Linked DNA regions of Homo sapiens: all the other regions are linked to region 5. The links come from fine-mapping of genetic effects on gene expression. A gene starts in region 5. Each other region holds a variant in brackets. All regions are shown on one strand. Distances are from middle to middle.

Region 1 (4,408 bases), 170 kb after region 5:
CTGGGTCCCGCGTGGGGGCCTCCTGTGGCTGTGAGGACTCAGTCCCTTGTGCAGCCGGCACGGGGGCTGGTGCCTCCTCCCCACTGTGTCTGGGGACGATGACCCTAGTGCCAGGCCAGCACAAGTCCACTTGTGTCTCCAGGGAACAGAAGTGGCCATTTCTAGTCATACCAAGGGCCACACAGCAAGTGGACTTACGACACAGTGGGGACCCCAGAGGGGCCCCAAGGACTGTGGAAGGAGTGCCCAGAAGACTGGCCTGAGCCGGGGCCCTCACTGCCTCCAGCACACCGGGGGTCTGGCCCAGGCATCTCAGTTTCTGAGCTCCCCCACCTGGCCTCCAGATAGCAGCAGTCCCTGAGGAGGGGAGGCCTGGCCGTGTCCTGGGCCGTGTGGCCGGACATGTTGTGTGCACTCAAGGCTGTATGCGCATCTGTGCTGGGGCGCCTAAGGGCAGGTGCCTAGGGAGGCAGCAGCAGGTGCTGACCCCACCTTCCTCCCTCCAGGGCCCCTTCGTCCTCCTTTTCCACTGCGTGCTCAACCAGGAGGTCCGGAAGCACCTGAAGGGCGTGCTCGGCGGGAGGAAGCTGCACCTGGAGGACTCCGCCACCACCAGGGCCACCCTGCTGACGGTAGGAGGCGCCGGGGACACCGCGGGACTGGGGGCTGGGCGGCATCTCGAGGGGCGGGGGAGGGTGATCGAGCCTCAGCCCCAGTCCTGCGGCCCGTATGCCCCTCACGGTGGGGATGGCAGAGCCGCCCGCGGTGCACGGTGTGGCTGCCGCGTCAGAACCAGAAAGTGACAGAATCGGCCAGATGGGGCCTGGGTCGCATCCTAACCCTGCTCTTCCAGGCCTTAGAAAGAGAGGGTCAGGACCACCGAGGATCCTGACCAGAAGCAGTGGCCGTAGGGAGGGCGGCAGCCCCTGACCACAGCGCGGGCCAGGATGTGCTTCCCTCAGCTGCCAGGAGGCTCTCGTTTGCAGTGAGGGTTGACTGCTTGGGGCCAGCTCCTCCTGTGTGCCAGGCAGGGGCCCAGCCAGGGTGTGGGTGTGGGGGGCTTGCCGTGGGGACAGAGTCATTCCCCGTGGTGGTCATGTGGTGGCCACCACTTGGCAGTGACCAGCCCCTCCCCTCCCTTCAGCGCTCCCTCAACTGCAACACCACCTTCGGTGACGGGCCTGACATGCTGCGCACAGACTTGGGCGAGTCCACCGCCTCGCTGGACAGCATCGTCAGGTCAGGCCGCAGCTCCGGGTTCGGGGAGGTGGCTCTCGAACTCCCTCAGGTTTTGCCCCTGCCACCCCAACCTGTGTCCTGCCATTCAACCAACATCACCTTCCACCCCCAACTTTCCACCCGCACCTTCTTCCCACCCGCAACTTCCCTCCCTGCCCCGCACCTTCCCTCCCCGCCTCGCACCTTCCCTTCCCCTGCACCTTCCCCCAACAACCTTTCCCCCACCAACTTCCCCCAACCAACCTTTTCCCGTGCAACCTTCCCCCCCGCACCTTCCCCGCACTGCACCTTCCCCCCGCAGCCTTCCCCCCTCCACCTTCCCCCTCCACCTTTCCCCTGACAACCTTTCCCCCCAACCTTTCCCCCAGCACCTTCCCCCCAACCTTTCCCCCCACCACCTTCCCCCCCAGCCTTTCCCCCCACCACCTTTCCCCCACCCAGCCTTTCCCCCCACCACCTTCCCCCACCCAACCTTTCCCCCCACCACCTTCCCCCACCCAACCTTTCCACCCACCACCTTCCCCCCACCCAACCTTTCCCCCCACCACCTTTCCCCCACATACTCGGGAGGCTGTTTTGTCTGTGCTGTTGTTGGGAACACAGAAGGGGTAGGGGCAGAGAATCTTCCAGAGAACTTTCCAGCACCTCCTGTTCCCTGACGGATGATACTGAGCCCACCCTCCCTGGCCTCTCTAGGGATGAAGGGATCCAGAAGCTCGGCGTGTCCTCTGGGCTGGTGAGGGGCAGCCACGGAGAGCCAGACGCGTCCCTCATGCCCAGGAGCTGCAAGGATCCCCCTGGTATGGCTTCCCTGGAGGGGGAGGACCCCGTGGGTTGTTTTTCCCACGTCCCTTCGGTCACTGGACAGACTGCCCCTGAAGAAGCACTAGCAGCCTCGCCATGCTCAGCGTCAGCATGCCAGGGGCCCAGTGGCTCTGCTTGGCCCTCGGTGGGACTCCCTCACCTCCCAGGGCCTGAGCCTCCCTGTCCCCCGCGCATCCACAGGCCACGATTCCGACTCAGATAGCGAGCTGTCCCTGGATGAGCAGAGCAGCTCTTACGCCTCCTCACACTCGTCAGACAGCGAGGACGATGGGGTGGGAGCTGAGGAAAAATGGGACCCGGCCAGGGGCGCCGTCCACAGCAC[C/A]CCCAAAGGTGAGTGTGTGGGGCACATTGGGCCAGGCTGGGCTGTGGACAGCGGGCTCGGGGCAGGCCTTGGCTATGGCTGGGTCCCTTCCTCCCAGGATATGCCCAGCAGCACTGCAGCCACATGAAAGGACAGCCTGGGGTGGGGGGACTCTGGTTGGGCTCCCCCACAGCCTCTGGAGGGCTCCTCCAGGCCAACCCCCTGAGCGGAGGCAGGAACTCTCAGGGGGGTCTCTGTGGACTGTCACCGCAAGGTCCAGGTGAGGCTGCCAGTGGGGGATTAGCCTGTATAGTTACTGGTACAGATGCGGCGGGGGCTCCCAACAAGGGCCCTGCTGCCAGGACTCGCCCTCCTGGGCCTCAGTTTCCCCACCTTTAGGGTTCAGCCCTACCAGGCCTGCAGGTTGGGGAGAGGTGGGTCAGAGCCACCAGACCCATGGCTCTCAAGGGAGCAGCTCGAGTGGCAGTGCCGCTGCCTGCTGAGCACCGCTCTCGTGCCTCAGGGGACGCTGTGGCCAACCACGTTCCGGCCGGCTGGCCCGACCAGAGCCTGGCTGAGAGTGACAGTGAGGACCCCAGCGGCAAGCCCCGCCTGAAGGTGGAGACCAAGGTCAGCGTGGAGCTGCACCGCGAGGAGCAGGGCAGTCACCGTGGAGAGTACCCCCCGGACCAGGAGAGCGGGGGCGCAGCCAGGCTTGCTAGCAGCCAGCCCCCAGAGCAGAGGAAAGGTGCCTGGGGAGGCCGGGGCTGCAGTGAAAGGCTGGAGGACCCAGAAGGGCCAGTCCCTGGTCTGGAGGTGGGAGTGGGGCTGGGGCTGGTGGGGCAAGTCAGGGCCTGGGCAGAACAGACGTGGCCTCCTGGCCTAGCCCTGGGACCCGGGGAACCAGGAGGAAGGACAGGGGCTGAGGCTGGCTCAGCTGCACACGGCCCAGCAGCTGCCCCCGGCAGCATCACCCGGACTTGACCTTGCCGTGTCTCCTCCTCCCAGGCATCTTGAAAAATAAAGTCACCTACCCGCCGCCGCTGACGCTGACGGAGCAGACGCTGAAGGGCCGGCTCCGGGAGAAGCTGGCCGACTGTGAGCAGAGCCCCACATCCTCGCGCACGTCTTCCCTGGGCTCTGGCGGCCCCGACTGCGCCATCACAGTCAAGAGCCCTGGGAGGGAGCCGGGGCGTGACCACCTCAACGGGGTGGCCATGAATGTGCGCACTGGGAGCGCCCAGGCCGATGGCTCCGACTCTGAGTGAGTAGCCTGGGCCTCCAGGGCGGGGATCACCCACTTCCCCCTTGTCCTGAGTCAGGAGAGAGAGGGGGCAGTGGTCAGGGACCTGACACCCACCTCACCTGGAGCCCTGAGTGCAGAGGAAGCCCAGGCGGGGATGGGGGAGGGGGGAGGCGCTGCAGCTGAGGTCAGGAGGATACCCCGGAGATGGGCAGACCCCCTATCCTGGGGACACGTCTCAGGCCTCTGGGACTCTGAAGCCCTGGCCAGCCCCAAAATGCTAGGACCTAAGGTGCTGGGCTCTGCGTTTGATCAGCATTGTCTCCGCCTGGGACCACTGCCACCCACCTTGCAGTTGAGGATACTGAGGGTCCCGGAATGCCAGGGGTGAAGGGGGCGGGGTGGAGCTGGGGTCCTGGCCCCAGACCTCTCCCTGTCGCCCCTCCCTCCCTCCAAACTCACAAGGGAGAAGCCAGGTCTTCAGAATGCCCCTTCCAAAAGTCACTGTAGAGATGGCCGGTTTCTAACGTGGATTCCTTGCGCTCTTCTGAAAGACCAGCAACACAGAGGCCCACAGGCTGGTCCTGGTCCCCTCTCCTGCCTCCCAAGGGCAGCCTCATCCAACATGAGCTTGCCCTCCCTGGAGCCCCCAGACGCCCCCTCTACCCTGATGGGGTGATCCTGCCCCCCCGTGTGACAACCTTGGGCCCCACCAAGCCGCTACCCTCACTGACCCTTCACCTGCTTGCTGGCTTCTTCCCACGCGCAGAGGCAGTAATGAAACTTCAATTTGAACCATC
Region 2 (4,408 bases), 20 kb after region 5:
AATTTGGCTGGATCTTTGTCCTTGTTTGTTTCTACGGAGGTGGAATTCACAGAACGTGAAGTTAACCATTTTAATGTGAGCCATTTTGTGGTGTTTAGAACATCACAGTGGTGTGCAACACCCCCACCCTGTCCAGTTCCAAAGCATTTCCATTTCCCTCAAAGGAAAGCCTGTACCCTCTGGCAGCCCCAACCCGTGGGCTTTTGTGTCTGGCTTCTCCCCGGCCAGTGTCATGTTTTCCGGGTCGTGCACAGCGCAGCACGTGGCAGTATTTTCTTGTCTTTATGTTGGTGTTTTTTTTTTTTGATACAGAGTCTCGCTCCGTTACCCAGGCTGGAGTACAGTGGCTCAATCTTGGCTCATTGCAACCTTTGCCTCCTGGGTTTAAGCGATTCTCCTGCCTCTGCCTCCCGAGTAGCTGGGATTACAGGCATGCGCCACCACGTCCAGCTAATTTTTGTATTTTTAGTAGAGACGGGATTTCTCCAGGTTTGCCAGGCTGGTCTCGAACTCCTGACCTCAAGTGATCCACCCGCCTTGGCCTCCCAAAGTGCTGGATTACAGGCGAGCCACCGCGCCCAGCCACAACTGGAGTCTTTATAAGAGAGAAGACAGAGACAGACACACAATGAGGAGGCCACAACGTGAAGATGGAGGCAGAGACCGCAGCCACACTCGGATTACAGGCGTGGGCCACCGTGCCTGGCCCCATCTTAATTTATATCTTCATCTGCAGCCTTTATTTCCAAGTTAGGTCACATCCACAGGTACTGGGCATTGGGGCAGGGTAGTGAACCCACTGCCACGCCTGCCTTCATGTTTGTGTGTGTGACTGGTTTCTTCGTGTTAAATCAGATAACCGAGGCCTCCCTTCTCAGTGGGATCTGCAGTCTGTCCACCCGAATGCCCGAGCACACCATCGGTTTGCCTTGTCGCAGTGCAATGTGGTCTGTGGGAGCCCACTCCCTTCGTTCTCCTCTAACGAGACTGAGTGTGGCACGGGCTGAGCGCCCCTGCTGATGGTGCCCCCACAGGCTCTGACTCCTCAGTAAGGTCTGCTGTGATAGCAGCGTCTGTGCTGAGGGGCCGCGCTGTGCTTTGAGATGTCCTTTAGAAAGGGGATGCCGAGGCCAGGCGTGGTGGCTCACGCCTGCAATCACAGCACTTTGGGAGGTCGAGATGGATGGATCACATCACCTGAGGTCACGAGTTCGAGACCAGCCTGACCAACATGGAGAAACCCCATCTCTACTAAAAACACAAAAAAATTACCCGGGTGTGGTGGCACATGACTGTAATCCCAGCTACTTGGGAGGCTGAGGCAGGAGAATCACTTGAACGCAGGAGGCAGAGGTTGCAGTGAGCCAAAATCCTGCCATTGCACTCTGGCCTGGGCAACAAAAGTGAAACTCTGTCTCAAAAAAAAAAAAAAAGGAAGGGGACACCGTGGGAGGTGTGTAATAAACAGAATATGGGGACACAGGGTGGTGGGTGCTTTCAGATGACAGCTCACCCTCCCTTTCCCTCTGGGTCTCAATGCCAAGTGCCATAGCCATGGGAGTCGCCTCTTCAATGCAGCCCTCGCTTCTAAGCATGGAAAATTCTAACACATAATCGCAAGTTCTCCCAATTCTTCAAAGAGGAGAGAATGGAAAATATGAAGGTTTATTGTTCTGTGAGACTTCCTGTCTGTCCTGCATGTGGCCGTCAGAGGTCAGGGGTGCGTCTGTGTGTGCAGGACGGGAAGCTCAGGGGC[G/A]TGTTTTGCGGCGTGTCTGCAGGGGCACCTTACTGTGGACAGAGGTACCAAGACAAGAGCCGGCCTGGGGCGCCGGGACAGTGCACATCAGCCATTGTGGTTCTACCCTCCAGATACCGCCTTGTGCCCCGTGGAAGATGACAAGTGCCAGATGGAGTCTGTTTTGGGGGAAAACCAGGCCGGGATGACCCCGTAGGCAGGAAACCGGTGGCTTTGGTGTTGGACGGCCGTCCAAGTCTCCGGTTTGGCCCGGGAAACCCATTGCATTTGTGGCAGGAATTCTCTCTTCCCTCCTGTTTTTCCTGCGGGTCATCGGCCCAGCATTTTTTGCCAGAGCAAAGGTGGAGCAGTGGGAAAATGGGCCAAGCCCCTTCAGGGGCCAAACTTGCACCTGGCAGCTCCATGCTCTGCAGCTGGGAAAACTGAGGCAGTGGGGGATGGGGAGGTGGTTTGTATACCTCAGGGGAATGATCCATTGGGGTGAGAACCTGCCCTGGCCAGAGCCAGACCCTCTGGATTCTTCCCCCAGAGTCACCAGCCTCAGGAAGTGGATGAGCCCAGCTCATCCCTTATGGGTGATAAAGGTTCCTTTGCTTTAAAACACGAAAAGGGCATCCCATGGCTTTGCCAGCCGTGACACTGGTTTAGGTGGGATTCTGGGCATGGGTCAGTGGGGGTCAGCTGCAGTGGGAAACGGGGAGGGAGGGTGAGGGGACAGCCCTCGGCCGCCTGCCTTCCTGCCAGTCCCCACCCCGCAGCTTCCTGCCTGGCACAACATAGGGTGTTGCCTGTGTCCTGAGAGAGTCGTGTGCCTGGGTGAGAAGTGGAGGGAATGGACTTTGTGGTCCGTTGGGCCGGAGGAGCCACATAACATGAGCTGGTCGAGGAAATTACCTGGGAGGTGTCAAGGTGGCAGCAAATGAGCTTTGAAAAGTATGTCCTGGCCAGGTGTGGTGGCTCATGCTTCTAATCCCAAGCACTTTGGGAGGCGAGGCAGGAGGCTTGCTTGAGGCCAGGAGTTCAAGACCGGCCTGGGCAACATGGCGAGACCCTGTGTCTATAAAAAAAAATTTTAAAAAACCCCCCAAAACCGGTGTGCTATCCCTCCCCACTCCCCCAACCCCACAACAGGCCCCGGTGTGTGATGTTTCCCTTCCTGTGTCCAAGTGTTCTCATTGTTCAGTTCCCACCTATGAGTGAGAACATGCGGTGTTTGGTTTTTTGTCCTTGCGATAGTTTGCTGAGAATGATGGTTTCCAGCTTCATCCATGTCCTTACAAAGGACATGAACTCATCATTTTTTATGGCTGCATAGTATTCCATGGTGTATATGTGCCACATTTTCTTAATCCAGTCTATCATTGGTGGACATTTGGGTTGGTTCCAAGTCTTTGCTATTGTGAGTAGTGCCGCAATAAACATACGTGTGCATGTGTCTTTATAGCAGCATGATTTATAATCCTTTGGGTATATACCCAGTAATGGGATGGCTGGGTCAAATGGTATTTCTACTTCTAGATCCTTGAGGAATCGCCACACTGTCTTCCACAATGGTTCAACTAGTTTGCAGTCCCACCAACAGTGTAAAAGTGTTCCTGTTTCTCCACATTCTCTCCAGTACCTGTTGTTTCCTGACTTTTTAATGATCGCCATTGTAACTGGTGTGAGATGATATCTCATTGTGGTTTTGATTTGCATTTCTCTGAACTCATTCCTACTTTCTTAACCCCAGTCGACTGTGCTGTGGATGCTGGTCAGTGCTGGAGATCTGCAGGATGGGCGGAATGTCCTGGTGTATCCTCCTGCCGGGGCTGCCTTCCTACACTGGCTGCTGGGAGCCTGTTACACAGATAGGAGCCTGCCAGGCTGGGGAGGCCCCAGTGACTTAGTCATCCCCTGATCCCCCAGCAGGACTTACAAAGCCTCAGCCTCTGTGCCTTTGAGTCCCCAGCCCTGAGCACTGTGTGACTGAGGCCCGTCCTATTGGCTGTGTCCTCCACCTCCAGCCCCCGGGGTGCCCTGCAGCTTGTGCACACCCACTCTGCATCAGGCTCAGCCCTCCCAGAGCTGACTTCACCATGGAGACACAGACTGTCATGCTTTCCTATTTTCTGTCTAAGGCCTTCATAGAGTTTGTGTTTAAGGTGAGCCTCTTTCCCTTTACCCTGATGAAACATGTGCAAACCTTCCTACCTGGGGGTCATGTGACTTGGGAGCATCCACTCACAAGCTAGCCTTTGTGATACGCACTGAGACCGCTGGGCTGTGGTTCCAGCTGTGCTGCCGACAGCTGTGCAGCTCTCCCCAGGAGGGCCCAGGTGGGGGTCACTTGCCTGGCTGTGGGCTGGGAGTGGTGGGCAGGGCCATGAGGTCCCAGAGTGTGGCCAGAGGGCTGATGCACGGGTGGAATGGCTCCTACTGCCCATGCTGTGTCCCATGAGTGTCCCCGGGGGGGGTTGGCTCTGCTGGGACGCTGAGGGGGGTCCACGCTGCCAGACAGCCTTTTCTCAGCCCAGGCTGAAGCTGAGGGGGTGCTGGGGGTGCTTTCTAGAAGGGGCTGGCGAGGACTAGGCTGGTTGCCAGGGCCCAAGAGGGCTGGGGTTTGGACAGAGCCACTTTTGTGGGGAGGCATGGAGTTTGGAGCGGATGCCA
Region 3 (4,408 bases), 53 kb after region 5:
ATGGCGTGAACCTGGGAGGTGGAGCTTGCAGTGAGCCGAGGTCACGCCACTGCACTCCGGCCTGGGCGACAAAGCGAGACTCAGTCTCAAAAAAAAAAAAAAAAAAAAAAAAAAGTACCTGAAAGGTTAGAGCATATTAAGAGCAGATTAGTTTGGGCCACGACACATATCACTGTCATAGACAAACGACACAAGCAGGACATGCTGAACAAAACGGGTTCACGTTTGCAGAACAGGGTTCTGTTTCTCCCTCTGCGGGGTCTGATGGCTCCAGTGCGCCCATTTCCCCAGACTGTGGGAGGCACTGTGCAGAACCTGAGCGTCAACGGTCCCCGCCACACAAACCCCATGGGCGCAGACAGCACAGGTGTGGATGGAGAGGTGCATGGAGCCTGCTGGCCGCCTGTCTTGGAGATGAGCTTTTGCTCCTCGGCAATTTGGAGATGCTCAGCCAGCCAGATTTTATTTTCAGCTTTACTTGTGACGTTCACTTCTCTCCCGGATCCTCCATAATGAGCCAGACAGAAGCTGCCTGGCGGCCCCGCATGCAGCCTCCCAGGCACATGGGCCTCCTCCCGTCCAAACGGAGCTTTGAGTCTTTGCTTGAATCTTCTTACTCACTGGTTTCAAAATAGGCATCCAGCTCATTAGCCTCAGGGAGAGGGAGTTGGGGGCGCCACTCACAAAGGCCTGGGAAGAGGAACCCGAGCCAAGGTCAGGATGGAGGGCTTGTCTTCCAGCAGAACCCAATGTGAGGTGAGAGTTTTTGTTCTAGTCTTTGAATACTGGAAACGAATCTCACCATCTGGAGGTGGCAGGGGAGAGAGGCCTGAAAGAAATAAATTAAAATACTCAACTACAGAAAAACCTCGAAGCTGCAATCAAGACAAAAGCAAGGATGCTAACACACACACTTTCTCTGTTGGCTAAAACTGAGTGTTTTCACGGGGAGGCCTGCGTCATCTTTCTCTCAGGTTTCTTCCACGAGAGCCTCTAGTTAATCATCTCAAATGACCCTTCTAATGTCATGCTGAATCAGTCTCTTGAAATTTAGGACTGGAATTTTCTCAGCAAATATTTAACTAGAAAAACGAAATCTCAGCTTTTCTGTTCTCAGCAGTTTCAATGCAAGTTGCAAATTAATAGACGTCTGGGCCAATATTTGATCTTTTCCCCCAAAGAAAATGATTTGCTCGCCATTCACTAAATTGGAGGGAGGCGTCCCTGGAAGTAACAAGGATGATATCCTTGTTCCTGGAGGTGGGCTTCGGTAGTGTTTGGAGACCTCAGGCAGCAGCCGGACCTCCCCAGCACCTGGGCGGGGTCCCTGTGAGCGCTCACTCCAGCATCTCTGATGGCCACAGGGTCTCTGGGGCAGAACCCCCATGCCCAGCCAAAACAGGTGCTGCAGTGAGTGGGCCAGGTAGCTCTCGTGGTATGTGAGCGCAGCTGCCCCTTGCCAGGCTGTCCCGGGCTGCCCCCAGCTCTAACTTGAGGCACTAACCCTATCAGGGGTCAGTGGCTTAATATAGCCTCTCCCTGGTATTTGCATTTCAAAAGAGGTCTCTGTGAAATTATTCTGGAAGGGATTTCAGGGCCCCTGAGTGGGGACACATTTCAGGCCTAGGAGGGGTGGCTCCTCCAAGTTCCTGGCAGATGCTGCAGCCTGCATTTCTGAGGAGGGCTGGGCCCGAGGCAGCTGCCACCATGGGCTGGGCTGGGCTGGTGGAAGGAGGGACTCTGTCCCCTGCAGGACCCTCCCAGCGGTCTTGCTTGGGACTGAGCAGCTGGGGCTGGTGGGCCCTGTGGATGCCAGGTTTACTGGTGCCCAGTTCAGACCTCGGACCCGTCCCCACCGTCGTAACGGCTCTCCCCAGCAGCTCCCCTTCTCTTGCCCTGTACCCTTGGATTTCTGGGCGGAAGGCCTGGGGCGCTCCTCCCTACAGGTGAGTCTGAGAGCCAGGGCAGAGCGTGGGAGCCCGTGGGAGCCTGGGAATGTTCTGTGCTCCGTGAAATTGACAGTTGTGCTCCTTTACCTGGAGGCAAGGGATGTGGCTTCTGAGCCTGTTGGTGCCAGTGCCTTTGTTGTTACACCTTTGCTCTTAAATAGGTACAAATTATTGGTATTAGAAAGCCTTGCAGCTCCATATCCTCATTAAGCCTCTGCAGTTAATAATTATTTTTCTCTCCTGAAAGTGTTGGTGTGAAAGAGCTGAGTAGACACGTGGAGACTGCAGGCCTCACTCTACCTTGGCAGGAAGATGGCGACCTGCATCCCCAACAGACAGCTGTGTGTCCTGGGCACAGTTCCTGAGCCTTTCTGGGCCCCACATCCCTTGTCACTGGGGTAGCAGAATCTGCTCTGCCTCCCTGGGTGGTTGGAGAGGCAATAGCAGATAATGGGAGCAAAGACTTACGTAGCTCTTGCAATCCTCAGGGGACTCCAGGAGGCAGGAAATCCAATCACCCGGTTTTACTGATGAGGAAACCAAAGCACATAGAGGTTAAGTGACTTGCCCAAGTTCACAGAGGAAGTGGGTGGCAGAGTGGGATTGTCAGGGAAAGCACCTTGAATGGAAAACCTGTGGGCTGCCACTGCACTCCAGCCTGGGTGACAGAGCGAGACGCTGTCTCAAAAAAAAAAAAAAAAAAAAAAAAGTCAG[G/A]AATAGCATGTTTCCATAAAGAGGGTGTGCTCAACTGTGAGGACTGCGCCCTAGACACCCAGTGAGGCGGGTCTCACAGTTTGTGGCTTATGTTAATTAATGTCTCATCATTAATTTATTAATAAGGTTCTTTCTAAAGTCCTTGTTTTTAATGTAATCAAAATCATACTTTTTCCCCTTTACGATAGTGTGTTGTGTGTCATGTTTAAGAATTGCTTACCTATCTCAAGATCATAAACATGATTTTGAATGATCCTTGCTAAAATAGGCTTTGTCTTTCCTGCTTAAGTCCTTAGTTCACCTGGAATTGATGTTTGTGCTTGGTGTGAGGTAGGGATCCAGTTTCACTTTGTCCGTTATGTAGACAGCTGAGTGGCTTGGGACCATGTGTGGGAATGCTCCTCTTTCCCATTTGCCAGCTCTGTTGTGTGTGCGTGTGGACCTGTTTCTGGGCTCCATCTTCTGTCCATCAGTCTGTTGGTCTGCTCCATGCCAGCACTCCCTTGTCTACAGGCTATAAATCTTGACATCAGATAGAGCTTGTTCCCCTCCCCTGTTCTCCAGGGATGCCTTGGCTATTCTTGACCTATTGGTCTTCTGTGGAGATTAGAGAATCATCTTGTGAGTTCCCTATGAAGGACCCTGTAGATAATTTTCTTTTTTTTTTGAGGCGGGATTTTGTTCTTTCACCCAGGCTGGAGTACAGTGCACAAGCTCAGCTCACTGCAACCTTTGCCTCCTGGGTTCAAGTGAGTCTCGTGCCTCAGCCTTTCGAGTAGCTGAGTTTACAGGCATATGCAATCCCACTCTGCCACCCACTTCCTCTGTGACCTTGGGCAAGTCACTTAACCTCTATGTGCTTTGGTTTCCTCATCAGTAAAACTGGGTGATTGGATTTTCTGCCTCCTAGAGTCCCCTGAGGATTGCAAGAGCTACACAGGTCTTTGCTCTCATTATCTGGTATTGCCTCTCCAGCTACCCAGGGAGGCAGAACAGATTCTGCTCTGGCTGATGGCCCTTCCTCTGTCTTCAGGGCCAGCAGCATAGAATCCCCTGACTTCCTCTGTCCCCATAAGCTCTTTCTCCCACTCTTCCTCCCTCCTCTGCTTTTAAGGATCCTGTGGCCACCCAGATCCTCCAGGATACTCTCGTGGGTTAAGGTTGCTGGTGAGCGGCCGTGCCCCTGTGCCATGTGGCATAACGCAGTCACAGCTTCTGGGGATTGAGACATGCAGCTCTTCTTGGGAAGTGAGGGTGAGACATTATTTTGTCTACCACACATGGCCATGGCCAAGATTTATAAAAGTCAGCCGGGTGCAGTAGCTCATGTCTGTGATCCCAGCACTTTGGGAGGCTGAGGCTGGTGGATCACCTGAGCTCAGGAGTTCGAGACCAGCCTGTCCAACATGGCGAAACCCCATCTCTACTAAAAATACAAAAATTAGCCAGGCTTGGTGGCACATGCCTGTAATCCCAGCTACTCGGGAGGCTGAGGCAGGAGAATCTCTTGAACCCGGGAGGCAGAGGTTGCAGTGAGCTGAGATCACGCCACTGCATGGGCAACAGAGTGAGACTCTGTTTCAAAAAAAAAAAAAAGATTTAGAAAAGTTCAAATAACTGGGGCAGCACAGGGTTGCCACTGGGGAGCTGCAGCAGCTGCGGGTGCAGGAGGTGGTGGACTCCATGGTGAAGAGTCTGGAGAGAGAGAACATCTGGAAGATGCATTGTCTCATGTTCTGGTGCAG
Region 4 (4,408 bases), 140 kb after region 5:
GCCTGCTGTGGCCTCCCAACGTGCTGGGATTAAAGGCCTGAGCCACTGCTCCCAGCCAACTTTGCCTAACTTTTTTTTTTTCTCGAGACCAAGTCTCGCTCTGTCACCCAGGGTGGAGTGCAATGCTGCGATCTCAGCTCACTGCAACCTCCACCTCCCAGGTTCAAGCAGTTCTCCTGCCCCAGCCTCTGAGTAGCCAGGATTACAGGCACCTACCACCACACCTAGCTAATTTTTGTATTTTTAGTAAAGATGGGGTTTCACCATGTTGGCCAGGCTGGTCACGAACTTTTGACTTCAGGTGATCCACCCACCTCAGCCTCCCAAAATGCTGAGATTACAGGCCTGAGCCACCGCACCTGGCCAACTTTGCCTAATTTTTAAGCCTATCTTGTATCTGGTGCCACATAATCAGTCTCCTTTCACAGCTTCCTTGTTTAAGTGACTGCAAAATGTTTTCTCTTTCATTGTCATTGTACCAATCAGTCGGTGTGGCTCTCCCTGCTCCAGATCCTGAACAACTACCTCCAGTTTGAGGTGTCCCACGGCCCCTCCGATGTGGAGTCCGTGATGCTGTCCGGGTTGCGGGTGACCGACGGGGAGTGGCACCACCTGCTGATCGAGCTGAAGAATGTTAAGGAGGACAGTGAGATGAAGCACCTGGTCACCATGACCTTGGACTATGGGATGGACCAGGTGAGCTGGCACCTGCACCTCCTCTGGGGATAGACCCTTCCTCCGGCCCAGGGAAAAACAGAATGACCCCTTGACGTGCCAGGACCCACCAGAGACCTTGTGGATTTGGGGAGGCACTTTCTGGGTCCCCGCAGGTGGGCTTCTGTTCTGCCCTGTACTGAGGTCACTGGCATCTTCCTCACCTCCTTCATCCGGATGCCCCGCCCCCGGCAGTCAGCAGCTGACTTCCTCCAGCTGCATTTCTCATCATGATGCTGTTGGTGCCTTCAGCAGTGGTTTCTTTTAGCAAAGCCATCTTGAGCAACACCTGCAGGCTCAGCACCATGTCTTTAGGGTACTGAAGTAGCAATGCTGGGGCCCGTGCCCTCAGAGCATGGATGGGGAGCAAAACTGGGAGAGCAGTGAGACCCAGGTCCTGGACAGGCCTGTGAGACACCAGGGAGCCACACATGTCCCAGGCAGGCAGGTGGTGGTATCCCAGACAATGTTCGGAACACTTAACCAAACTAGGTTTCCACAGTTTGCAGGCAGGTAACCCAAGATGTTGTCTGTGAAATGCCCACACACTTAAGGGGCGACCTGGGATCTCCAAGAGCTCTTGGAGCCAAGGCTCATCTTACAACACAGACCTGGGAGTAAATAGGTGTGTTCCAGGCACCTGCCTTTCTGGGACTGGATCTCAGCCGAGACCCTCTTGGGTTCCCACAGTGTTAATGAGTGAGCGGATTTCCGTTCACTGCAGTCTTCCTGACTCGCCAAGCTCTCTGTCACAGCGTGGCTGGTTTAGTGTTGTGCCCTTGACGGAGGCGGGACAGTTGCCCACGTTGACCCCACTGGCCGCCTCAGCTAGGCTGGGGCATGGACACCCATCCTCTGGCCTGGTCCCCTCGCCCTGGTCATCACAGCCAGCCTCGCTGTCCAGCTGGGCCCAGCTCTCTCTTTGGAGGCCCAGATGTCCTCAGGCTCTGCGGAGTTTGTTGAAGTGACTGTTTAGACTTCCAGTGTATCCTTCCCATCTGAGAGACGTTTCTAGGATGGTGGATGCAGCCCCCAGATCCCCGGCCCCTCTCTCCGCACAGAACAAGGCAGATATCGGGGGCATGCTTCCCGGGCTGACGGTAAGGAGCGTGGTGGTCGG[A/G]GGCGCCTCTGAAGACAAGGTCTCCGTGCGCCGTGGATTCCGAGGCTGCATGCAGGTGCGTGGGGGTTGTGGGGGGCGGGGGGAGGCCTGCCCCTCACAGGCAGCTCCGAGGCTGGCAGCACCATAGGTGGTTCCGTTGGTCAACCTGTTAGCTTTCAACGAGTGAAGAATTTGTCTGACAGGCATCCCCACTTTAACAGCTCCTGTTTCCTCTTCAGACCCATTCTCCCCTGCGGTTCCCCTTGGCATCCGGGCCGTCCCTGGCCCCCACAGCTCCCCACCGCCATGCCAGCCACCTGCCCCTCTGCCTTTGTGAAGTGTCCTGAATCGAGCCCCTTGCCGCCACCCCCACCCAGTCCAACCACAGACGTCACCCAAGTGGGCCCCGTGCCTGTCCCCTGGAGCCAGGGGTTCCAGCTACGGCCGAGGGAGCTGCTCTGAGTCGTTCAGCTCTCAGCCCCCTCGGCAGGGACATCCACTCCTCACGCCCCCACCGCGCACCCCAGGAGCTCAGGCTGGCGTGCCCTCTGAGCTCCTCACCCAGCCCTCCACTGCACTCCGGCCAGCAGGCCGTGGGGCAAGAGGAACAACCCTGCCCGCCCCAGCTCTGTAGATAAATGAGGCATCACAGATGAATGCCTCGCAAGGGACCAGAGAGGTCTCAGGGTTCCCTTAACCCCTACATACCTTTCCGGGCTCCTGTAGCCCCAGTGCCGTTTACTTAATGCAGGGAGTGAGGATGGGGGGGACGCCCACCAACGTCGCCACCCTGAACATGAACAACGCACTCAAGGTCAGGGTGAAGGACGGCTGTGATGTGGACGACCCCTGTACCTCGAGCCCCTGTCCCCCCAATAGCCGCTGCCACGACGCCTGGGAGGACTACAGCTGCGTCTGTGACAAAGGTGGGACCGCCCTCCCGGGGCCCTTCAGTGACAGGGAGGTCTCTTATGGCTGAAACACAGGAGGGGGGCTCAGTTTAGACATTAGCGTCCCCAGCCAACTCCCTGTGGTTCCGTGGAGCCCTGAGCTTTATTTTATAACAAGCGGGCCCCTCCTAGAGAGAGACTCTGAGCCTCTTCCTTACTCAAGGCACAGAGTGCCCCAGGCGCTCTCCTCAGCACATGGGGTGATCAGCAAAGAAACAGTGAAAAGTAAGGCCGGGTGCAGTGGCTCATACCTGTAATCCCAGCACTTTGGGAGGCCGAGGTGGGTGGATCACTTGAAGCCAGGAGTTCAAGACCAGCCAGGCAACATGGTGAAACCCCATCTCTACGAAAAAAAAAAAAAAAAAAAAAAAAGCAAAAATTAGCCAGGCATGGTGGCACGCATCTGTAGTCCTAGCTACGTGGGAGGCTGAGGTGGGAGGATCACTTGAGCTTCTTAGGCAAAGGTTCCAGTGAGCTGAGATCATGCCACTGCACCTCAGCCTGGGCAACAGAGCAAGACTCTTCTCAATAAATAAATAAATAAAAGAATTAGTGAAAAGTGCATATTAAGAAAATCCTCCATTCAGGGTGGCCTCAGAGTTTTGAGGTGCTTAAGTCATCTTCTGCTGGTGGCCATTCCCCATGTGTCCTGGGGCAGCCTGGGCCCCGTGTTCCAAGGCTCTCACCCTCCTTGGGGCAGCCCGGGAAGGCCTTCCTCTCTGCATCACTAAGTCTAACCCGCCTAACGCTGTGTTTTCGGGGACTCTGTGGCACTCTTCCTCTTCCCTCTGCTGAGTACCAGGGAAAGTCAGATCTTCTGGAGGGGACAGGTTGCTCCAGATATTTTAACGTGGAAGGTCTCGTGGATTGTGGGTGGAGGTAATGCTGGCTCTGTCCTTGCAGGGTACCTTGGAATAAACTGTGTGGATGCCTGTCACCTGAACCCCTGCGAGAACATGGGGGCCTGCGTGCGCTCCCCCGGCTCCCCGCAGGGCTACGTGTGCGAGTGTGGGCCCAGTCACTACGGGCCGTACTGTGAGAACAAGTAAGAGCAGCCCCTGGTGCCTCCCTGCACCTTCAGAGTCCATGTGGCTGTGTTCCCTCGACTCAGTGTCTTCTCTTTCTTATTTTGACCCAAAGATATGTGTGATTCTGGGTAACAGGGACATATTTTTTTTTAATTTGGCATGAATTAAGTGAAAATCAAATTTTTTTTAATTTTTATTTTATTTTTATTTTTTTGAGACAGAGTCTTGCTCTGTCACCCAGGCTGGAGTGCAATGGCGCGATCTTGGCTCCTTGCAACCTCTGCCTCCTGGGCTCAAGTGATTCTCCTGCCTCGGCCTCCCGAGTAGCTGGTCCTACAGGTGCCCGCCACCATGCCCAGCTAATATTTTGTATTTTTAGTAGAAATGGAGTTTCACCATATTGGTCAGGCTGGTCTCGAACTCCTGACCTCAAGTGATCCACCTGCCTCAGCCTCCCAAAGTGCTGGGATTACGGGTGTGAGCCACCACGCTTGGGCAATGAGAATCAATTTGGACGTCTCAAACTAACCCCATTGGATCATGTGTCCACACCTGAAACATGCAAATGACTCACCTGGAGTCCTCACTGGGCCCAGAGCAAACAGGCCCCATGAGAT
Region 5 (4,408 bases):
CTTAAAGCCTTATTGCAAAACAGGCACTCCTGGGGTTCTCTGGTTTTTCCTCCTGCCTGGGTCCCCTTCAGGTCCGCCCAGTAGCCTTCCACTGGGAGGCTCCGGGCTCAGGGACCCGCCCTGCCTTCCGGCCCCAGAACTCCTGTCCTTTCATCCTTCCCGGAAAAATCCCAGTGGAAGGGTATATGGCGGGTGGGGAGGTCCTGGACCGCTCACATTAAGGAGACGGACTTTTCTCCTTCCTCCCCTCCCTCCACACACACATTTCCCAACAGGACTCTCCAGTGGAAACCTCGAATTAAAAGGTTCCAAAGCAACTCCACCTTTTAGATCAATATAACGTGTTCAAATCCTTGCTACTGGGAAGAAAATGCTCACATTGGGCTTCAGCACAAAGACACTGTTTCAGCAGCTTTGAGCGAAGTTGGCTGAGTATGCGTGTGACACACACACAGACACATCGCTCCGGGGGAGAAACCCTTCCGGTTCTCCACAGCCGCCCACGGTCCTCGTTGAGACTGGACTCATCTCAGCTCAGCTCAGAGATTTGGCTGCAGGATCCGACCCTCCCTTGCCAAAAAGACCCGTTCTAGGGGTGACTGCGCATTACTCCCACCCCCACCGCTCCGACCGGCCCCAGGAGAAGCCCTTCTAGGAGAGAAGAGGCGACCCCCACCTACCGTCCCCGACCACTGGGAGGCCTAAGGGCTGCACTGGACTCCGGCGCCCCGAGCGCCACCAAGGGAGTGCGCGCCCTTCCCAGCCGCTGGTGGCACAGTCCCAAAGCCCCGCCCATGCGGGGGGTCGCCAAGTCCTAAGCCTCCACCCCCTTTATCCCTGTGCCCCATCCGGAGGCAGGTGTACCCGTCACGCAAACCTAAAGCTGCCCCCGGCCCCCCGTGGTTCCCCGCAGGAGGCGGGGGTGTGTGTCACTTTTCTGAAAGCTCTAAGGTCTCTGCCCCCCGCCCCCCGCTGTCCTCCGTAGGAGGCTGGGCAGGGGCTGTGGCACAGCTCTAAATCCCTGCGGGTGCTTGCTTGCCCCAGGCAGCTTCCAGGACCCGCAGCCCCCCGCCTTCCCCGCAACCCGCTTCGGGAGGAGCCGGACGCTCGGGGATTCCGCGATGCGTCCGCGAACGCTCGGGTCGGGCCGCACGCGGGAGATGAGCGCGCCTCCGCCGTCCTCTCCAAATCCCTTATGTCAACCGGGGTTTTCTTCTTTCATTTAAAAGTTGCGCTTTAAACCAAGTGGGACGCAGATCCGGTAGCTGCCTATTGGGCTTCAAAGTCCAGGGAGTTTTAGTCGGGGTGAAGCATTTTAGCCTCCGTGCGTCTTGCTGTAAAATGGGTAACCCTCCTCGACAGCCTCCGCAGTCCTTAATGGGTGGGGGGGGGCTCCCCGGCCTCTCGGCCCCAGTCCTCCGCCCCCGGGTCCTACCCGCGCGGCACTCCTGGCGGCGGTCTCCGTGGATCTGTTCTGCCGGGGTGGGGAGCCAGGCTCTGAGCCGCGGCCCCGAGCCCGAGGTGCGGAGCCACCGCCCCACGGGTAGCGGCCACCGGGGGCCCCAGCCCCACCTTTCCCGGCCCTGTTGCCTCGGCCCCGCCCCACCGGGAGGCTGGGTGGGGAGGCCTCCGGGGAGTAGGGCCCCAGTCCCCGTCCCGGCCGCGCCCTCGCGTCTCCATAGCGATCCTCTCGGCGCGCACCTCCGAGCCGGCTCCCCCCGGGGCCGAACAATACGCCGCTGGGCCGGGGGCGGGGCGGGGCCGGGCCGGGGGCGGGGAGAGCGCGGGCGGAGTGGGCGCGGGCCAAGCGCACCGCCCAGGCAGCAGCCGGCCGCCGGGGTCTGCGCGGCGCGGAGCTGCCCAGCCCGCTCCGGGAACTCAGCCCCCGCCCCGCGCCGGGCCCGCCCCGCTTCCCACGCCCGTCCGGCCGAGCCCGCGCCGGAGCCACCTGGAGCCGCCTGGAGCCGCCGCCGCCGCCGCAGGTTGATGCGCGGCGCCCTCCCGGGACGCGCGGAGGAGCCATCTTGAAACCAACTTCGCAAACTTTCGCAAAGTGCTCTCGAAGTGGAAGCTGCGGGGGAGGCCGGGCGCGTGGTCCCCACAGTCCCCGCCAGGGCCCCCGGGGAGGCGGGACGCGGACCGCCCCGAGGGCCGGGCGCCCGGGAGCCGCTCCCCGGCCTCGCCGGGTGGATGCGGAGGCGCGCCGGGTGCATGGATTGTGTTCGGGCGCCCGGCTCGGGCTCGGGCTCCGGGCCATGGCGCCGCCGCCGCCGCCCGTGCTGCCCGTGCTGCTGCTCCTGGCCGCCGCCGCCGCCCTGCCGGCGATGGGGCTGCGAGCGGCCGCCTGGGAGCCGCGCGTACCCGGCGGGACCCGCGCCTTCGCCCTCCGGCCCGGCTGTACCTACGCGGTGGGCGCCGCTTGCACGCCCCGGGCGCCGCGGGAGCTGCTGGACGTGGGCCGCGATGGGCGGCTGGCAGGACGTCGGCGCGTCTCGGGCGCGGGGCGCCCGCTGCCGCTGCAAGTCCGCTTGGTGGCCCGCAGTGCCCCGACGGCGCTGAGCCGCCGCCTGCGGGCGCGCACGCACCTTCCCGGCTGCGGAGCCCGTGCCCGGCTCTGCGGAACCGGTGCCCGGCTCTGCGGGGCGCTCTGCTTCCCCGTCCCCGGCGGCTGCGCGGCCGCGCAGCATTCGGCGCTCGCAGCTCCGACCACCTTACCCGCCTGCCGCTGCCCGCCGCGCCCCAGGCCCCGCTGTCCCGGCCGTCCCATCTGCCTGCCGCCGGGCGGCTCGGTCCGCCTGCGTCTGCTGTGCGCCCTGCGGCGCGCGGCTGGCGCCGTCCGGGTGGGACTGGCGCTGGAGGCCGCCACCGCGGGGACGCCCTCCGCGTCGCCATCCCCATCGCCGCCCCTGCCGCCGAACTTGCCCGAAGCCCGGGCGGGGCCGGCGCGACGGGCCCGGCGGGGCACGAGCGGCAGAGGGAGCCTGAAGTTTCCGATGCCCAACTACCAGGTGGCGTTGTTTGAGAACGAACCGGCGGGCACCCTCATCCTCCAGCTGCACGCGCACTACACCATCGAGGGCGAGGAGGAGCGCGTGAGCTATTACATGGAGGGGCTGTTCGACGAGCGCTCCCGGGGCTACTTCCGAATCGACTCTGCCACGGGCGCCGTGAGCACGGACAGCGTACTGGACCGCGAGACCAAGGAGACGCACGTCCTCAGGGTGAAAGCCGTGGACTACAGTACGCCGCCGCGCTCGGCCACCACCTACATCACTGTCTTGGTCAAAGACACCAACGACCACAGCCCGGTCTTCGAGCAGTCGGAGTACCGCGAGCGCGTGCGGGAGAACCTGGAGGTGGGCTACGAGGTGCTGACCATCCGCGCCAGCGACCGCGACTCGCCCATCAACGCCAACTTGCGTTACCGCGTGTTGGGGGGCGCGTGGGACGTCTTCCAGCTCAACGAGAGCTCTGGCGTGGTGAGCACACGGGCGGTGCTGGACCGGGAGGAGGCGGCCGAGTACCAGCTCCTGGTGGAGGCCAACGACCAGGGGCGCAATCCGGGCCCGCTCAGTGCCACGGCCACCGTGTACATCGAGGTGGAGGACGAGAACGACAACTACCCCCAGTTCAGCGAGCAGAACTACGTGGTCCAGGTGCCCGAGGACGTGGGGCTCAACACGGCTGTGCTGCGAGTGCAGGCCACGGACCGGGACCAGGGCCAGAACGCGGCCATTCACTACAGCATCCTCAGCGGGAACGTGGCCGGCCAGTTCTACCTGCACTCGCTGAGCGGGATCCTGGATGTGATCAACCCCTTGGATTTCGAGGATGTCCAGAAATACTCGCTGAGCATTAAGGCCCAGGATGGGGGCCGGCCCCCGCTCATCAATTCTTCAGGGGTGGTGTCTGTGCAGGTGCTGGATGTCAACGACAACGAGCCTATCTTTGTGAGCAGCCCCTTCCAGGCCACGGTGCTGGAGAATGTGCCCCTGGGCTACCCCGTGGTGCACATTCAGGCGGTGGACGCGGACTCTGGAGAGAACGCCCGGCTGCACTATCGCCTGGTGGACACGGCCTCCACCTTTCTGGGGGGCGGCAGCGCTGGGCCTAAGAATCCTGCCCCCACCCCTGACTTCCCCTTCCAGATCCACAACAGCTCCGGTTGGATCACAGTGTGTGCCGAGCTGGACCGCGAGGAGGTGGAGCACTACAGCTTCGGGGTGGAGGCGGTGGACCACGGCTCGCCCCCCATGAGCTCCTCCACCAGCGTGTCCATCACGGTGCTGGACGTGAATGACAACGACCCGGTGTTCACGCAGCCCACCTACGAGCTTCGTCTGAATGAGGATGCGGCCGTGGGGAGCAGCGTGCTGACCCTGCAGGCCCGCGACCGTGACGCCAACAG
Region 6 (4,408 bases), 100 kb after region 5:
CCAAGGAATCATTAAATTGTGGTACATCTCTAGATTAAAAATGTCAACACTGGCCGGGTGCAGTGGCTCATGCCTGTAATCCCCAGCACTTTGGGAGGCCGAGGCAGGCAGATCACCTGAGGTCAGGAGTTAGAGACCAGCCTGGCTAACATGGTGAAACCCCATCTCTACTGAAAATACAAAAATTAGCCAGGTATGGTGGCACTTGCCTGTAATCCCAGCCACTCAGGAGGCTGAGGCAGGAGAATTGCTTGAACCTGGGAGGTGGAGGTTGCAGTGAGCTGAGATCATGCCATTGCACTCCAGCCTGGGTGACAGAGTGAGACTCCATCTCAAAAAAAAAAAAAAAAAAAATTTTTTTTTTTTTTTTTTGGACAAGGCTGGCCAGGCAAGGTGGCTCATGCCTGTAATCCTAGCACTTTGAGAGGCCAAGGCGGGCAGATTGCTTGAGCTCAGAAGTTCAAGACCAGCCTGGGCAATATAGCGAGACTCTGTCTCTTTTAAAAAAAATATATCGACAAGGCCATTAAACATGTTATTCCAGTTGTTAGAAAAGAACATTTCTCCAGACTGCCAACAGGTATATCTGTGTTTTTCTGGCACACATGACTTTTTTTTTTGTTTTTGTTCTTCTTTTGAGACAAAGTCTTACTCTTTCACCCAGGCTGGAGTGCAGTGGTGCAATATTGGCTCACTGCGACCTCCACCTCCCAGGTTCAAGCGATTCTCATGCCTCAGCCTCTCCAGTAGCTGGGAATACAGGCACGTTTCACCATGCCCGGCTAATTTTTGTATTTTTAGTAGAGACAGGGTTTCACTGTGTTGGCCAGGCTGGTCTTGAACTCCTGACCTCAAGTGATCCGCCCACCTTGGCCTCCCAAAGTGCTGGGATTACAGATGTGAGCCACCAGGCTCAGCCTGGCACACTTGACTTTCAGGAGTGAATTCTGCCATCTCCTCCTTCACCTGGAAGTTCACCAAGATGGCTCAGAGCTGCTTCCGTCTCTAGAACCCTGGCCCGTGTTGAATGACATGTGTGTGATGGTGGAGGATGGAGCTTTGTTTTCTATACTCAATAAAGAAAGGGAGGCACCTGTAACAGCAGCCAACCACCATGGGAGAGGTGGCCATAGCCCTCCGGGCTCTGTGAGGTGGGATTAGGCTATTCCCCTGGCCAGTGTCTCCCACACCCGTTTCCAGAACTCCTGCTGGTTCCCTGGAGACGGTATTCTCTGCCCGGGACCTGGTACCCACCGCACCTGTCCTTTGGTGCCCCTGAAGCTCCTTCCTCCCAGCTGCTGCTGCTGACTCAGGGTTGTGCCCCAGAATCCCCAAAGGGACTCGCCCGCCCCACTCCAGCAGGAGCTCAAGGGGTGGAAATGACAGACACCCCAAAGCAGAGATGCACAAGAGACGCGTCCGCGACCTCACGATGGGACGTGTTACGTGGTTTAAGAGTTGTTAAAAGCCTGAGATGACATTTATTTGATTAAGTGACCTAAAGTGGAATTGGTTTTGATGATTTTGTCTACGTTGATGCAATGCATAGGAAAAAGGGTTCGACCTCTGGTGCGGTGTAGGTGTGACTGCTGCTGGTACAGACAGATGGGTTTTCCGTGTTTATATTTTTTCATATTTAGAAAAGGAACAAGGCCAGGCGCGGTGGCTCACGCCCGTTATCCCAGCAGTTTGGGAGGCCAAGGCAGGCAGATCACGAGGTCAGGAGTTCGAGACTAGACTAGCCAACATGGTGAAACCCCATCTCTACTAAAAATACAAAAATTAGCCGGGTGTGGTGGTGGGTGCCTGTAATCCCAGCTACTCAGGAGGCTGAGGCAGGAGAATCTCTTGAACCCAGGAGGCGGAGGTGGCAGTGAGCTGAGATCACGCCACTGCACTCCAGCCTGGGCGACAGAGCAAGACTCCATCTCAAAACAAACAAAACCAGAAAAGAGGAACAAGAATTACTTTTGTAACCAGAAAAGAAAATGGATGGAGTGGTGGGCGCCTCCCACCATGGTGCCGTGGGGAGGGGAGGGAGGACGTGGCCATGTGCACCTGTCTCCCCCTGATGCCTCACAGCGCAATCCTCGGTCCCCAGTAGGCCCCGCCAACCCCTGTTTTCTCTCTGGGTCTCCCTCCCACCATGCAGG[C/T]GAGACAACAACGACCGTGGCACCGAAGGTTCCCAGTGGTGTGAGTGACGGGCGGTGGCACTCTGTGCAGGTGCAGTACTACAACAAGGTAAGATGGGCCCCACCACTTCCCCCTGGCCCCAGGGCGGCTCGAGAAGGTGCCCTGGGGCGAGGCGCAGTGGCTCACGCCTGTAATCCCAGCACTTTGAGAGGCCAAGGCAGGTGGATTACCTGAGGTCAGGAGCTCGAGACCAGCTTGGCCAACGTGGCGAAACCCTGTCTCTACCAAAAATACAAAAATTAAAAAATTAGCCGGGCGTGGTGGCGGGTGCCTGTAATCCCAGCTACTCAGGAGGCTGAGGCAGGAGAGTCACTTGAGCCTGGGAGGCAGAAGTTACAGTGAGCCGAGATCGTGCCACTGTATTCCAGCCTGGGTAACAGAGCGAAATTCCATCTAAAAAAAAAAGGAAGGAAAAAAGGTGCCCTGGTAGATTTTCTGTCTTGAGACATTTGTGCTCTGAATTTTTTTTTAAATGTGCTATTGGAAAAAATGGTTTAGGAAATGCACATTTGTGGAGGGTCTGTGTAAATACACCTGAGCCCTGTGCTGGGGTCATAGTCCCACCCAGAGCTCTGGGTCGGGGGGTACACAGGGACCCCGGAGATCTCCTGCGCTGGGGGAGGGACACAGAAAGGGCTTATTCATTTGCAGCCACCTTGGCCAGAGTCTACTAGTGGCTGAAATTCTGGGCTGTTCATACACGGCTCTGTAGCCAAAATCGTCCACTGTACCTGGATGTAACTGGCGAGCCAGAACACTCTTCAAGGAAGTGCCGTGAAGGCTGGGTGGTTTTGGTTTCACTTTATTTTGCTGTTCGTTGGCTTGTAAGGAAACACATTGTTTTTTGCATCAAAATGCTGTGCTTTCCACGGCTGTGATTTTGCAAATCCCTTTTCTCTTCTTGGGAAGCTCCAGGGTGTGCCCCCGCTTGCTCGTGGGTCTGCGTGGGTCTTACCGGCTCCTCCTGGAGCCTGGCCACCCCCGCTGTGCCCCGCTTCCCGGACTTCACAAGGCTGGGGCCTAAGCTTGGTTGGCAGACGAGGGCTCCTCTGTCCTCCAGGAGAATCGACCCAGTCCTTCTATGGAGAGAGCATCTTCCTTCTTTCACAGCCACTGTGCCTGGCTGCGACTCACCAGCAGTTGGGGTCCAGCCACTGGGCCTGAGGTCGTAGTGTCGCCTCCACTGGCTTTCACTCTCCTTTCCATGCTGGCCACCGGCGTCCCTCCACCTCCCTGGCCCGCCCCTCCCATCTGCCTTGAATATCCCATCATCTCCCAGGCGTGCCACACAGACTCCAAGTAGTGGTCACCTGCACAGAGACCATAGTTTTTGTCCTCTGTCCCATCAGTGCCAACCCAGGGCAGGTGGAGCTTGAGCCTCATTTGGGAGGAGGGCAGATGGGAGGTGCTGGTGAGGTTTGGGAGCTGAGTGCTTGCTCGGGGTTTGGGGGGATATTGAGAGAAGGCTGGCAGGTGTCTGGGCAGGGTCTGGGCTGCCGCACATTGGATGTCACCCCTAGTGGGGCTTGGCTGATGTTTGGAGAACCATGTGCTTGACAGAGGTGCAGGGGCTGGTGGGGTGAGGGGCTCAGGGCTGAGCAAGAGGAAGAGGGTAGCCCTCACAGACGCGGATTTATTTGCTGCCATTGTCCATTTCAAAGACCGAGTCTTTTCTTGATACGGTGCCGTCCTGTGGCTGTGTGGGGCAGTGCTAGCCAGTGTGAAGCGCGTTCACCTGGGTGAGCTGCACGGGTGGCCGTTGCGTCCTGCTGCCTGGCGCTGCCTACTCTGACCTGGTGACCCTTCCTGTTGTGCCCTTCCAGCCAGCTGGGGCTGGACACCAGAGCTCAATGCCCCCTGGGGTGGTGCCTCCCAAGGGCTGGGCCACAGGGGACCCTGGAGACGGTGCCCCATCGTCAGGGAAGCATAGGGCATAGGTGGCGCATTTTCCTTCCTGCACGTATCAGAAGACCAAGTCCAGAGATGAACGTTTGTTGCTGGGGAGGGGGTAGGCAGGGGGAGGTCGAGTCAGCCTTGGTCTCCCCATCAGTGCTCAACACTCCAGAATCATCATCTGCCTATGGCAGAAGCAACAGTGTGTCTGCAGTTGCAGAGGGACTCGCAGCCAGGACGCCACTGTGGCCACCTCTGTCCACACTCCGCCCTGGCTCTGAACACAGTGAGTGTTCACTGGGGCCCGCCTGTGGCCGCCCCT
Region 7 (4,408 bases), 120 kb after region 5:
AGGTCATAAACTGCCTAAAGCATGGAGTCTTTTTTTTTTTTTTTTTCTGAGACGAAGTTTCGCTCCTGTTGCCCAGGCTGGAGTGTAAAGGCGCGATCTCGGCTCACCGCAACCTCTGCCTCCCAGGTTCAAGCAATTCTCCTGCCTCAGCCTCCCGAGTAGGTGGGATTACAGGCCTGCACCACCACGCCCGGCTAATTTTGTATTTTTAGTAGAGACGGGGTTTCTCCATGTTGAGGCTGGTCTTGAACTCCTGACCTCAGGTGATCTGCCCCCCTCGGCCTCCCAAAGTGCTGGGATTACAGGCGTGAGCCACCGCGCCTGGCCAGCATGGAGTCTTGATCAGATATTTATTATTCCTGGTGATGCAGTGGTTTGGCTGCTGGTTCTTCTGGTCTATGCGATTCAGCCAGGGCTGTGTGAAGGCCTCACTCATATGACCTGGCCGTTAGCCATGGCAGCTGGGGCCTCTCATCTTCCAGCAGGCCACCCTGGCCGTTCACTTGGTGGCAGGGGGTTCCTAGCAGCCAGAGAGGGCGAGTCCCAGTGCACGGTGCTTTCCAGGCCTTATCTCGTGTCCTTGTGCCCTGATGTCCTGTTGCCCAGGTCATGTGGCCAAGCCCAGCCTCTAGGTAGAGACATGGACCATTGGTGGCAAGAGCCAGGAGGTGGCATTGCAGAGGCCAGACGTACAGTGCAGGAGGCATCATCGTGGCCCTTATAGCAAAGGTGGATACCAATGGGAAGAAGAATGCAAAGTGAGGTGGATTTCGTGTTCCTTTTATGCCCTTCTGTGCCTTCTTACATGCACTTGAGTTCTTTGTATTTAAAAAAACAATATAGCAGTTATCTGGGTCATGGGACTATGAGCCATTTTTTTTTTTTTTGAGATGGAGTCTCGCTCTGTCGCCCAGGCTGGAGTGCAGTGGCGTGATCTCAGCTCACTGCAAGCTCCACCTCCTGGGTTCACACCATTCTCCTGCCTCAGTCTCCTGAGTAGCTGGGACTACAGGCGCCCACCACCATGCCCGGCTAATTTTTATTTATTTATTTATTTATTTTTTATTATTATTATTTTTTTTTAGTAGAGACGGGGTTTCACCGTGTTGGCCAGGATGGTCTCAGTCACCTGACCTCGTGATCCGCCCCCCCTTGGCCTCCCAAAGTGCTGCGATTACAGGTGTGAGCCACTGCGCCCGGCCCTGGTTTTTTCTTTTAAATATTCTGTTTAAAAAAATCATTTGAGGGCCAGGCACGGTGGCTCACGCCTGTAATCCTAGCACTTTGGGAGGCCGAGGCAGGCAGATCACTTGAAGTCAGGAGTTCAAAACCAGCCTGGCCAACCTGGCAAAACCCCATCTCTACTAAAAATACAAAAAAATTAGCCGGGCGTGGTGGCAGGTGCCCATAATCTCAGCTACTCGGGAGGCTGAGGCAGGAGAATCTCTTGAACCTGGGAGGTAGAGGTTGCAGTGAGCCAAGACCGTGCCACTGCACTCTAGCCTGGGCGACAGAGTGAGACTCTGTCTCAAAAATAAAACAAAAAAAATAAACAAAAAGATAATTGGATATACAGAATATGTAAGATAAAGAAGCTAAACTTTTACAAAGTTAATTAAGCCTTGCAAAGTATGTAAAATCCTTATGATAAAGGAGGTGGCCATGCAGGCTGGTAATTTTGCCCTCAGGGCCTTGTTGGCTTTGATTCTGTCTCATAGGAAGTTCCGTGTTTAAGAGGAGGGGATGGGGATGCTCCCCAGGTGTTCCGTGGCTGCGTGAAAGGTCACGCCCTTCGTGAGCTTCCCTGGCTTCTCCAGCCCCAGCAGGTGTTCTGTCAAATCCACTAGTGGGGCCTCTGCTAAGGCAGTCTGCACGTGCTCCCATCAGTTGGTGAAGTCGGCGGCCACTGCCTTTACTTACCCTGCATCTCGGACTCAGGATGTTCCTGCCTCCTTGAGCCCAAGTGATGGGGGCATAGAAGCCGATAGAGGGGTCTTCAGGTGGCTAGCGAGCTCTGCCAGAAAGGTGGTGCAGGGCCCTGCTTGCAGGCGCTGTGGCAGGTGGGGGCTGCCCCGATGCTGCTATGTGATGTGACAGATAAGTCACTTGGTTTCCGTTCCCAAACACAGGCCTGGTCAGGTGGTAGAAAGTCACCTGCTATGGAAACGTGGTGATTC[T/C]CGGAGGCAAGCGCCGCCCCACCCTGGGCCTTTGTGTTACAGAACCCTGTTATGGAAAGTCGCCCCAGGGCTGGAGCAGCCCTCAGTTTCACGCCCGGCTGAGGTTGCTTCCTGTCTGGCATCATAGCCACTGTCCTCCAGCAGCCTCTGTCTCACCCCCATCCTTCCCACCCCACCCAACCCCTCACTGCTGGGGCTCTGAGATGCACTGTGCCACGGCTGCCTCCCTCCCCTCTCTGGGCTCCTGGCCTTTCCCGCCTCTACCCCCCCAGCACCTCGGCAGGGAGGGTGGTGGTGGCTGAAGTGTACTGGCTGATGTCCTGTCTTGTGCCAGGCTCATGTGTGTCCCCCACGTGATCCTCATGTTAGCTCCTGGAGGAGGAGGTGCTGTTGCTGTTTCACAGATGAGGAAACTGAAGCACAGAGTAGATGATGGGAGGGCCGGGTTTAGGCGGAGCCATGGACCCAGCATCTCTCACCCACCCGTGTATCCGCTGCTCTGGGACGTGCCATCCGAGGGCTGTCGCGTTTTCCTGCCGTGACCATCCCCGGCCCCCACCTTCTCCCTGTCTTATCCAGGCGCTTCCATGCTCTGTCCCCCAATTCAGCCCTCTCCCCACCTTCACCTTATCACACAGATACTGAGCATGTCACCCCTTAGTGGGATGCAGGCCAGGAGGGAGGGAGGCTGGTCAGAAAGGTCATCAGGGCAAGAAGAGGCAGGGGGACTAAGGAAGGGGGTCCCGCGGGCCCAGATCGAGGACAGAGAGGGGACTATTAGGTCTTTACAGGAGCAGGCCATGACTTTGTATGAGCATGTGTTAGTGTGCAAGACTGTGTGCAAGGTGAGTGTGTACAGGTGAGTATATTGTGCAAGCATGAGCACGAGTATGGGTGAGCATGTGTGCACACAAGTGTGTGCTAGTATATCTGTGTGTGCACATGCAAGTATGAATGATGTGAGTGGGTGTGTCCACGTGTGCACACGTGTGAGTGCATACGTGAGTGGGTGAGTGCACCTGGGTGAGTATGCATGTGTGTGGGTGTGTGCACGTGTGTGAAGAAGCACACGTGTAAATGTGTGGGTGAGTGCACATTTGAGTGGGTGAGCATGCACATGTGGGTAAATGTGCACATGAGTGCACGAGTGGGTGAGTGCATACGTGAGTGCACATGAGTGGCTGAGTGTGCATATATGAGTGCACGTGTGTGGGCGAGTGCATTTGAGTGTGGGTGAGCATATGTGGGTGTGAATGTGGGTATGTACGAGTGTGGGTAGGTGTGCACATGTGAGTATGAATGAGTGCACGTGTGGGTGAGGGCACATTTGAGTGGGTGAGTGTATATGTGAGTGTGAATGTGGATGAGTATGCACGAGTGTGGGTAGGTGTGCACATGTGAGTATGAGCGCACGTGTGGGTGAGTGCACATTTGAGTGTGAGTGTCGGTAAGTGCACGTGGGTTTTGAGTATGCACATGATTGTGGGTGAGTGTACATAAGGGTGAGTGCACGTGTGCGTGGGTGAGTGTGCATGAGTTTGGGTAAGTGTACGTGTGAGCGTATGAATAAATGCACATGAATGTGAGAAGGCACGTGTGGGAGTGCACATGTGGGTGTGAATGCGGGTATGCACGTGAGCGTGGGTAAATGTGCACGAGTATGAGTGCATGTGCATGGGTGAGGGCGCATTTGAGTGTGAGTGGTGAGTGTGCACGTGTGGGTTTGAGTATGCACGAGTGTGGGTGAGTGTACACACGTGAGTGTGAGTGGGCGAGTGTACACATTTTTGGTAAGCTTTTTTGCTTGCTCAGAAAAGTCATTTTCGAGGGAACTGTAGCCCACCTGCCATCCTTCCTGAAGTTTTCTCCTGTTTTTCCCGGGACACTCAGGCTACTGTGTTGTGGGGGCTGAGCTCAGAGGCCCCATCCCAGGCACTCTGTCCCGGTGCCCGTGTGGAGGAGGCAGGCCCCGGGAGGCTGCAGCTCGGAAGTGTGCGTTCCTCCTTGTCCCGCTTGTCAGGATTTCTCTAGCTGGGAGTAGCATTAGGATTGAGATGCCTCCCACCCATAGAGGAACATGAGTGAGCTTCTTGTTGAGTGCTTGAGGAGGGTCCCTCAGGTTGTACCAAGCAACTTTTTGCCTATAAAATCCCCAAGAGAAGGAACGTGTTGCTTTCCAAGAAGGCGCTGTATCTCACTGCATTTTGGCCCTTCATTTGTCATTGGCAAGA

Evidence for each region. PIP is the estimated chance that this variant, and not a neighbour inherited with it, causes the effect.
Region 1: its variant is fine-mapped to the expression of CELSR1 in whole blood (TOPMed, PIP above 0.99).
Region 2: its variant is fine-mapped to the expression of CELSR1 in tibial nerve (GTEx, PIP above 0.99).
Region 3: its variant is fine-mapped to the expression of CELSR1 in whole blood (TOPMed, PIP above 0.99).
Region 4: its variant is fine-mapped to the expression of CELSR1 in testis (GTEx, PIP above 0.99). The same link has a PIP of 0.9 or more in atrial appendage, spleen, sun-exposed skin and unexposed skin.
Region 6: its variant is fine-mapped to the expression of CELSR1 in whole blood (TOPMed, PIP above 0.99).
Region 7: its variant is fine-mapped to the expression of CELSR1 in whole blood (TOPMed, PIP above 0.99).

The regions. Positions count from the first base shown.
Region 1 is chr22:46,363,217-46,367,624 of GRCh38, reverse strand. CELSR1 (cadherin EGF LAG seven-pass G-type receptor 1) reads left to right here. Exons shown (of 35, transcript NM_001378328.1): 29 at 507-632; 30 at 1,145-1,239; 31 at 1,936-2,039; 32 at 2,245-2,394; 33 at 2,889-3,113; 34 at 3,374-3,629; 35 at 4,378-4,408. The coding sequence ends at 4,402. Among named protein-coding and RNA genes, the nearest start is that of TRMU, 30 kb to the right of the region's middle. The variant C/A (reference allele first, on the strand shown) is at 2,387.
Region 2 is chr22:46,514,930-46,519,337 of GRCh38, reverse strand. The region is part of intron 1 of CELSR1 (cadherin EGF LAG seven-pass G-type receptor 1); the gene reads left to right. Among named protein-coding and RNA genes, the nearest start is that of CELSR1, 20 kb to the left of the region's middle. RefSeq lists enhancers at 1,437-2,202, 4,151-4,408. The variant G/A (reference allele first, on the strand shown) is at 1,757.
Region 3 is chr22:46,481,636-46,486,043 of GRCh38, reverse strand. All of the region lies in intron 1 of CELSR1 (cadherin EGF LAG seven-pass G-type receptor 1), which reads left to right. It also overlaps the pseudogene FAM136EP. Among named protein-coding and RNA genes, the nearest start is that of CELSR1, 54 kb to the left of the region's middle. The variant G/A (reference allele first, on the strand shown) is at 2,664.
Region 4 is chr22:46,396,005-46,400,412 of GRCh38, reverse strand. CELSR1 (cadherin EGF LAG seven-pass G-type receptor 1) reads left to right here. Exons shown (of 35, transcript NM_001378328.1): 10 at 511-696; 11 at 1,776-1,889; 12 at 2,565-2,739; 13 at 3,667-3,808. Among named protein-coding and RNA genes, the nearest start is that of TRMU, 62 kb to the right of the region's middle. The variant A/G (reference allele first, on the strand shown) is at 1,835.
Region 5 is chr22:46,535,018-46,539,425 of GRCh38, reverse strand. CELSR1 (cadherin EGF LAG seven-pass G-type receptor 1) reads left to right here and starts at 1,806. Exons shown (of 35, transcript NM_001378328.1): 1 at 1,806-4,408. The coding sequence starts at 2,256.
Region 6 is chr22:46,431,226-46,435,633 of GRCh38, reverse strand. CELSR1 (cadherin EGF LAG seven-pass G-type receptor 1) reads left to right here. Exons shown (of 35, transcript NM_001378328.1): 5 at 2,153-2,241. Among named protein-coding and RNA genes, the nearest start is that of TRMU, 98 kb to the right of the region's middle. RefSeq lists enhancers at 2,326-2,445, 3,016-3,065. The variant C/T (reference allele first, on the strand shown) is at 2,154.
Region 7 is chr22:46,419,246-46,423,653 of GRCh38, reverse strand. The region is part of intron 5 of CELSR1 (cadherin EGF LAG seven-pass G-type receptor 1); the gene reads left to right. Among named protein-coding and RNA genes, the nearest start is that of TRMU, 86 kb to the right of the region's middle. RefSeq lists a silencer at 2,331-2,380. The variant T/C (reference allele first, on the strand shown) is at 2,178.